2 linked regions of the Homo sapiens genome follow. The protein of the gene in region 1 purifies or fractionates together with the protein of each later gene. This does not show direct contact. Each region holds a gene or a part of one and is shown in the gene's direction. Other genes may lie near its edges.

Region 1 (3,749 bases):
TTATCATGGAAAGAGGGGAGAACAGATATTAGGGGACAACTAACCAGCTCTGCCACAGCGGAAAATCCAGATTCCGCCACGGCCTACAGGCTCCTCCTGGTCGACCCTCTCGGGAGCCCCGGTGCCTCCCTTCCTCCATGCCTGGTCCCTCTGCCTGAAGCCTTCCCGCCCTCTCTCCTGGCTCCATGCATCCTGTGGGCCTCCCACAACGCTGGTGCCAGCAAAGCCCGATCTCCTCTCCCGAGGCCGCCTGCATTCCCCCTGTGCGTGCATCGTAACCTGTGTCCCTGACTCACAGGGATCCTTACCCTCCCCAAGGTCTGTGCTCCCCAGGGAGGAGCCAAACCTCTGGGTGCCCTGAGCCCCAGCCCTGCAGAGCAGGCACCCCACGCGGTGGTTGCAGGCACCGGGCAGTCGCTCCATCCTGGTTTTCAGCTTTTGGTGCACAGAAGCATGAAGAAGAGGGGTCACTGGCACGGAGTCCTCCTTGAGAGTGTGTTCCAGTCGGCCAGGCAGGGGCAGCCGGGGATCCGTACCAGTGGTCCCTGCCCACCTGGGTTAGGAAAGGCTGGCTGGCCTGGGGAGGCTGTGGACGGCGTCTGCGGTGTCATCTGAGTGCCACGGCCATCGCTTCGAGACGGCGTCTGCTTGCTGCAGCCAGCCAAAGGTCTTAAGGAAGGCCGGGGCCACTGTCGGCAGGTGTGTGGCTCCAGATTGAAATTGTGACAATACCTCCAACCATGCCCTTCCGTCTTCCCACCGCGCAATCCAGTGCACCACCTCCCACCATGCAATCCAGCGCACCACCTCCCAGCAAAACCTCCAGGATCCGCCTCAAACCCAGCCCCATCCCACAGCCACCACCCTGGTCCGGGCCACCAATAGCTCTTGCTCAGACACAGGCAGTCACCTCTCCAGGGAGCACCCAGTGTCCATTCTGCCCTCGTTCTGGTCTATCCTTCACCCACAAATGGAGAGTATATTTTAGCATTAGATCAGTTCATGTCACTCTCTTGCTTAAAACCCCCGCCTGGCTTCCACTGCCTGGCATGAGAATCACCGCCACCTGCCCTACGGGACTGGCCCTGCCACCCCTGCCACCTGCCCCATGCCCGCTCCCCTAGCTCATGGTCCCCCAGAGTCACTGGCCTCCACCATCCTCTCAGCGAAACCCCACCAGCCACCACTGCGTGCCGCCCACCCACCCCGCCAGCCTCTCCATCACGTCTTCCTGCCTTCCCTTCTTTTGGGAAACTCTTTTTTTCTTGTTTGTTCATTTTATCTTCTGTGTCCCCAACTCGAATGGAGGCCACGAGGAACATTGTCTGTCTCATTCACTTCTGTGTCCCCAGAACCTAGAACCATGCCTGGCACACAGAACGTGCTTAATAGGAACTGAGACAGAGACATACAGGGAAGGAAAGAGGGAGAGAGACAGAGAAAGAGAGAGAAAATAAGAGAAGGGGAAGGAGAGATGGGGGAGAGGGAGGGAGAACCGCACACTGAATCCAGGGGTTCCTCTCCCACCCTTCATGTGCCTATGGTAACAAGGGAGTCCCCCTCTTCTGACCCCTTGTTGTCATCAAGCAAGAACGTCCGAGCCCCAGGCACCCTCTGAAATTCCCAAGAAGGAAGCATCCCAAGAAGGAAGCATCCCAAGAAGGAAGGCCCACAGGACGCTGGTCTGGAGCCATCCGGTTCCCGGTCTGCTCACCACGCTCAAGGAGCCCCTTAACAGGACCAGGAGGAGAACAGGCACCCAGCCTGGGGTTCCCCCCGGACAAGGCCATGCTGTGACCCAGGCTTGGTCCTGGCCCTGACCATGGGAAGCCCACCCCACAGGCCCTCACCCAGGCAGGCCTGAGGCCCATGCACCACTAAAGGCCTGGAGAGGGGGTCCCACCCCAGCCTCACCTGGGTCCCCTGGGGTCAGGGTGAGCTGGGACAGAGGGACCACCTGTTGCTATGGGAGAGGGAGAGGGCACGACTTTCCCAGTGGAATGGGCTCCTGCTGTGCTCTGAGCCCTGGGTCACTGTCCCCACTCTGGGGAGGGAGGGGAGGAGCCTGGAGCACCAAGGGCGCGGCTGGCAATAAAGGCAGATGCTCAAGTTGATGCCACCCCACGCACGTGAGGCTGGGACCAGGGGTGGCACTGACACGGCTGGGGAGCCCACTCCCGAGGTTCGACCCGGGGATGTGCACAGCCACATTCCAAAGGCGCACGGGATGAGATCAGCCCGGGTGACCCTGGGACTTTGTCCTCCTCGGCAGGAGCCAGCCCTGTGCACCCTGTGTGCCTGTCCATCTGGAAGGCCCAGCATGAGAGGCCCGGCCGTCCTCCTCACTGTGGCTCTGGCCACGCTCCTGGCTCCCGGGGCCGGAGCACCGGTACAAAGTCAGGGCTCCCAGAACAAGCTGCTCCTGGTGTCCTTCGACGGCTTCCGCTGGAACTACGACCAGGACGTGGACACCCCCAACCTGGACGCCATGGCCCGAGACGGGGTGAAGGCACGCTACATGACCCCCGCCTTTGTCACCATGACCAGCCCCTGCCACTTCACCCTGGTCACCGGTGAGTACTGCCCTGTGACGGGGCCTGGGGGTGGGAGGGCCTGAGAAACCAGATGGCACAGAGCCGTGTCGTGCAGGATAAAGGGGAGAGGTCCTTGCTCCAGGCACAGGACAGAGCCAAGGGGACCATTAGGAATCCTCACCGTTGGTAGCAACAGATCCGGGACAAAGAAAAATGACCAGGGGGGTCCTTAAACCCGTGGCCACAGCCAGGGCAGCAACCCCAGAAGGCTTCAGGAGGAGGGGAGTGTGGCGGGCTCCCCGCTGGCTCCCATGGCTCCCCTCCCCTGCCCGCCCCTCCAGCTGGCTGTGTCAGCCTCTCCCTCTCCCTTCCATCCTTTCCATTTTCCACCCAACACCTCCCTGACAGATCTGCCCAGGCTGTAGACAATACAGACATAGGTTTTTAAAAAGCCAAATATGGGGCCAGGCTCAGTGGCCCACGCCTGTAATCCCAGCACTTTGAGAGGCTGAGGCGGGCGGATCACTGGAGGTCAGGAGTTCGAGACCTGCCTGGCCAACATGGCGAAACCCCATCTCTACTAAAAATACAAACATTAGCCAGGCATGATGGTGCATGCTTGTAATCCCAGCTACTTGGGAGGCTGAGACAGGAGAATTGCATGAACCCAGGAGGTGGAAGTTGCAGTGAGCTGAGATCGCACCACTGCACTCCAGCCTGGGTGACAAAGCAAGACTGCATATAATATATATATACATATATATATACATATATATATGTATATATATATATATATACACACACATATATATATATATGAGGCCAAGGCAGGAGGATTGCTGGAGTCCAGGAGGTAGAGGCTGCAGTGAGCTGCAATCACACCACTGCACTCCAGCCTGGGTGACAGAGCAAGACCCTGTGTCAAAAAAACAAACAATAATAAAATAATAAAAAGCCAAGTACCACAAAAAAGGTGTTAGAGAATTGAAAAGCAATTGGCCCTCCCTAGGGGCTCAGCCACCTCCCAAACCTGCGTCATCCTCCAAAGACCCTGCGTGGGTGTCCCAGGGCGCCTGCAACAAAGATCTGCAGACTGGCTTAAACCCACAGAAACGGATCCGCATGCTTCTGGAGGCCAGAAGGCCAAACCCAGGGCATTGCAGGGCTGCACCCACCCGGAAGGTTCCAGCAGAGGCTCCCTCCTCACCTCTTCTG
Region 2 (3,749 bases), on another chromosome or scaffold:
ACATGGGGGCAGACTTCAACTTTCGTTATTGGACTATCATTTCTGAAAATGAATGACCCCTGATCTTATGATAGTCGCTAAAGAAAATATTGAAATATTAAATCACAGGACATAATACTTAAGGTAGTTCCACATTCATTATTTATTCATTAAGAATTTATGAGTGGGAAGAGGGAGGGTATTAAAAAACCACCTATTGGGTACCACACTTATCACCTGGATGATGAAATAACATGTACACTAAAGCCCTATGACAGGCATTTTACCTATATAACAAACCTGCACGTGTATCCCTGAAACTAAAATAAAAGTTAAAAAAAAAAGAATTTATAATATTGGCTCCACTAGTGTGGCAGTTTTCCTGCAATGCAGAGATCCAGAATATATATGGATGTTTTTGATAAATATTTGAGCTTTGCTTGGACATTTACATACTCTAATTCTAGAATTTCACCTGTTAGGTCTTTTCTGTGATCTCTGTTATCAGTCTCTCTTTTTTTTTGCAACAAATAGTACCTACATTGGGGTGCATGTTGTTGTGGCTTGGTTTTCAGCTTTATTCTTAGATCTTCTTTTGGGAGAAGGGTTCCTTGTATGCCCATAGGAAAGTTCAAGTACTCAAGACTGGGGCGGGCAAAGCTGTCCTGGGAGCAGAATGGATCTGTGGGAAGGAAGGAGGGAAAACGCTGCTTCTTTCATGGGCTGTTTTTGACTCTATTGACATAGAGTTTCATTGAAAATGCCATTGCTAGGAGCACTCTCCTGTTTCAAAGGAGAATGTTACTGTATTATCAGAGGCTGGGAGTTATTGTTCTCAGAGCAGATGCTTCCTGTAATGTGAGGACTTGAGGATCAAGACACTTCTCCCTGCTTGTCTTCACATCCTTTGCTTTATCTGGCTTCTCCAGTTGTAACAATATGTAGATAAACCAGGACTTCTAAATCAGGGGTCTGGATCTTCAAGTATCTGGATGTGGATTCATGTTTTGTTTTTTCTCCATCACATAAACACCAAACACCAACAAATAAATACCTTTTATTTTTAAGGGACAGAGTCTCACTCTGTTGCCCAGGCCAGAGTGCAGTGGTGAAATCATAGCTCACTGCAACTTGGAATTCTTGGGCTCAAGTGATCCTGCTGTCTCAGCCTCCTGAATCAGCTGGGACTACAGGCAAGTGCCAGCATGCTAGGTTTAAAATTTTTTTTTTTTTTGTAGAGATGGGGTCTTGCTATGTTGCCCAGACTGGTCTTGAACTCCTGGGCTCAAGCGATCTTCCTGCCTCAGCCTCCCGAAGTGCTGGGATTATGGGTATGAGCCTGATTGTTTCATTTTCCTATGAGCCACCCCCAGCCCCCCAACAGAAGGTTGGTTTTAATAAAGATTTATCTTCTAGTAAAGTTGGGTAAGGCAGTAGACTGTGTCTTAGTAGCTTATTTCCAGCAGTTTTGGATTTCTTAGAAATCCTCAGGATAGGGAGGTGTTTTACCCAAACCACAATAGATTTCTGGCTCAATTTGTGTTGGAAATAGTAATAACTAAATTGTTCAAATGGAGAATGTATTTAATAAAGGTGAAAAAGTATGGCATTTCTTCAGGGAAGAGTTCATTTGTTTGTTTGACAGATATGGGGGAGATTTTATTTACATTTCCACTTTTATGGCCAGGAGTGTAGGTTATATTACTGTTATTCATTTAAAAATACATTAATTCTACATTTATTGGGGATTGATTGTAGTTTTTTTTTTTTTTTTTTTTTTTTTTTTTGAGACACAGTCTCACTCTGTCACCCAGGCTGGAGTGCAGTGGTGCGATCTCGGCTCACTGCAACCTCTGCCTCCCTGGTTCAAGCGATTCTCCTGCCTCAGCCTTCCGAGTAACTGGGACTACAGGCATGTGCCACCATGCCTGGCTAATTTTTTGTATTTTTAGTAGAGACGAGGTTTCACTGTGTTAGCCAGGTTGGTCTTGAACTCCTGACCTCGTGACCTGCCTGCCTCGGCCTCCCAAAGTGCTAGGATTATAGGCGTGAGCCACCGTGCCCAGCGATTATGGGCTTTTTTTTTTTTTTTGGTGAATAATAGACCTTTAGAAAAAGTATTTCTGCTACACTTTGCAGAGTTCTGGGAAGGTGTATCAATGCCTTTCTAGTAGTGAGATTCAAAAGATTGCTTGTCACTGTTACCACTGTCACTGCCTCTACCACTATCAGCATCATTGCCATCAGCTCCATAGTGATTAGAACTATGTTCCTAATCTTATCTTCCTTTGCATAAAGAGTTAGTTAAATAAACATAACTGGCAAAACGTAGTAAAAGTTCAGCAGGTAATAATTACCAGAGGAAAGAAGATGGCACAGCTATTGGCATTTAAAATCAAGTCAGATTACTGTTTTGGGTGGAGAGTGAGTCTGTCCCTTTGTCTCTTCCCATATTTTTTTTCTCTTTCCTTACTGTGAAAGGAGTTCCTTGCCAAATCAAGAAAAAAGAAATTAAGAACATTTTGAGAACTGTCCTCTCATCTGTTAAGGCATATAAAATAATTTAATTTTCGTGATGTCCTTGAAACCATAATTTCTGTTTTATTTTCCCTTCTCTTGCTACAATTTGACATTTTCATTTGTAAACTTTCAGTAGTTTTCCTGAACAAGAGTCACTTCAAGTAATAAAGAATATAACCTTTCTCCCTCATTAATGAATTCATCATCATTAGTTTCATGTAAACCTGATTTAAGAAAAAATGCTAGAGGCTGAGTGCAGTGGCTCACAACCGTAATCCCAGAGCTTGGGAGGCTGAGGTGGGAGGATTGCTTGAGCCCAGGAGTTTGAGACCAGCCTGGACAACACAGTGAAATTCTATCTCAAAAACAAAAACAAAAGAACCCTTAAAACCAAAAACTCCCAAAAACCTAAACTGAAAATGCCTACTGAAATTTTGGGAACTCTGCATGGGCGTCTCCAGGTGAGTGCCTGCTGGTTTGGGGGCACCATTTTTTAAATGCTGCCAATCCTACTTCCATCTTCCCATTGAGTTACTGGGGTGGAATGTGCTCTATAAATGTGTCTGTAACTCGCTTTTTCTTTTTGCCCTAAAATCCTGGAGAGTTAATGGAGTGTTAACCTTTTTTTAAAGATTTTTTAAAAAATCTATTTTTTCCTTTGTTGTCTTTCTCACATTGACTATGATATATTTTATTTTCCATCTTGGCTCAGTAAGGGTGGGAAATTTTTAAAAATTGAGATATTAGCTGAAAAACTTAAAAAATCATCCAATTTGGTTTGGATGGTTTTCTGGTGGAAACAAAGCTCCTGAACATGCATTTCATGCCTCGTAGATAAAAATCAGTCCCATGGTCTTTATGAAAGTAGATTAATTAGTGTAGTGTGTGGGCAGATCTCCCAGAGCAGGTTTTCACAGGCAGCTTTGCCAACATAACTCAGTCTGAACCTGCAGTTATGTTAGAATTATTTTTAAAGGGTGTAGGCTTTTCATTCACACATCGTCTTTGTTCTTGTGTGTGATGTATATTAACAGGTAGGTGGTACCTGAGAATAAAGGACCACAGCATAATCACGATGTGCCTGGGCTCTGGAGCCTGGCTACCTGGGCACAGGTGCTGGCCATTCCACTTAGTGGTTGTGTGGCTGTGGGCAGTCATGATCTCACTAGGCTTCAGTTTCATCATCTGAAAAATAGTGGTTTCTGCCTTATACAATTATATGGATATTGTGAGGATTAAATGAGGTAACA

What was found. Proteins that work in one complex are often made in the same cells at the same time.
Region 2: the proteins of ENPP7 (region 1) and CD109 purify together in Homo sapiens (affinity purification with mass spectrometry; 2 studies listed by BioGRID and IntAct, with this or other methods). This does not show direct contact.

The regions. Positions count from the first base shown.
Region 1 is NC_000017.11:79,728,820-79,732,568, forward strand, and holds the start of ENPP7 (ectonucleotide pyrophosphatase/phosphodiesterase family member 7 precursor), read left to right. Parts: upstream 1-2,123; 5' UTR 2,124-2,227; coding exon of another isoform or gene 2,228-2,320; coding exon 2,321-2,573; intron 2,574-3,749. UniProt on the Homo sapiens protein: Choline-specific phosphodiesterase that hydrolyzes sphingomyelin releasing the ceramide and phosphocholine and therefore is involved in sphingomyelin digestion, ceramide formation, and fatty acid (FA) absorption in the gastrointestinal tract.
Region 2 is NC_000006.12:73,699,054-73,702,802, forward strand, and holds part of CD109 (CD109 antigen isoform 1 preproprotein), read left to right. Parts: intron 1-3,749. UniProt on the Homo sapiens protein: Modulates negatively TGFB1 signaling in keratinocytes.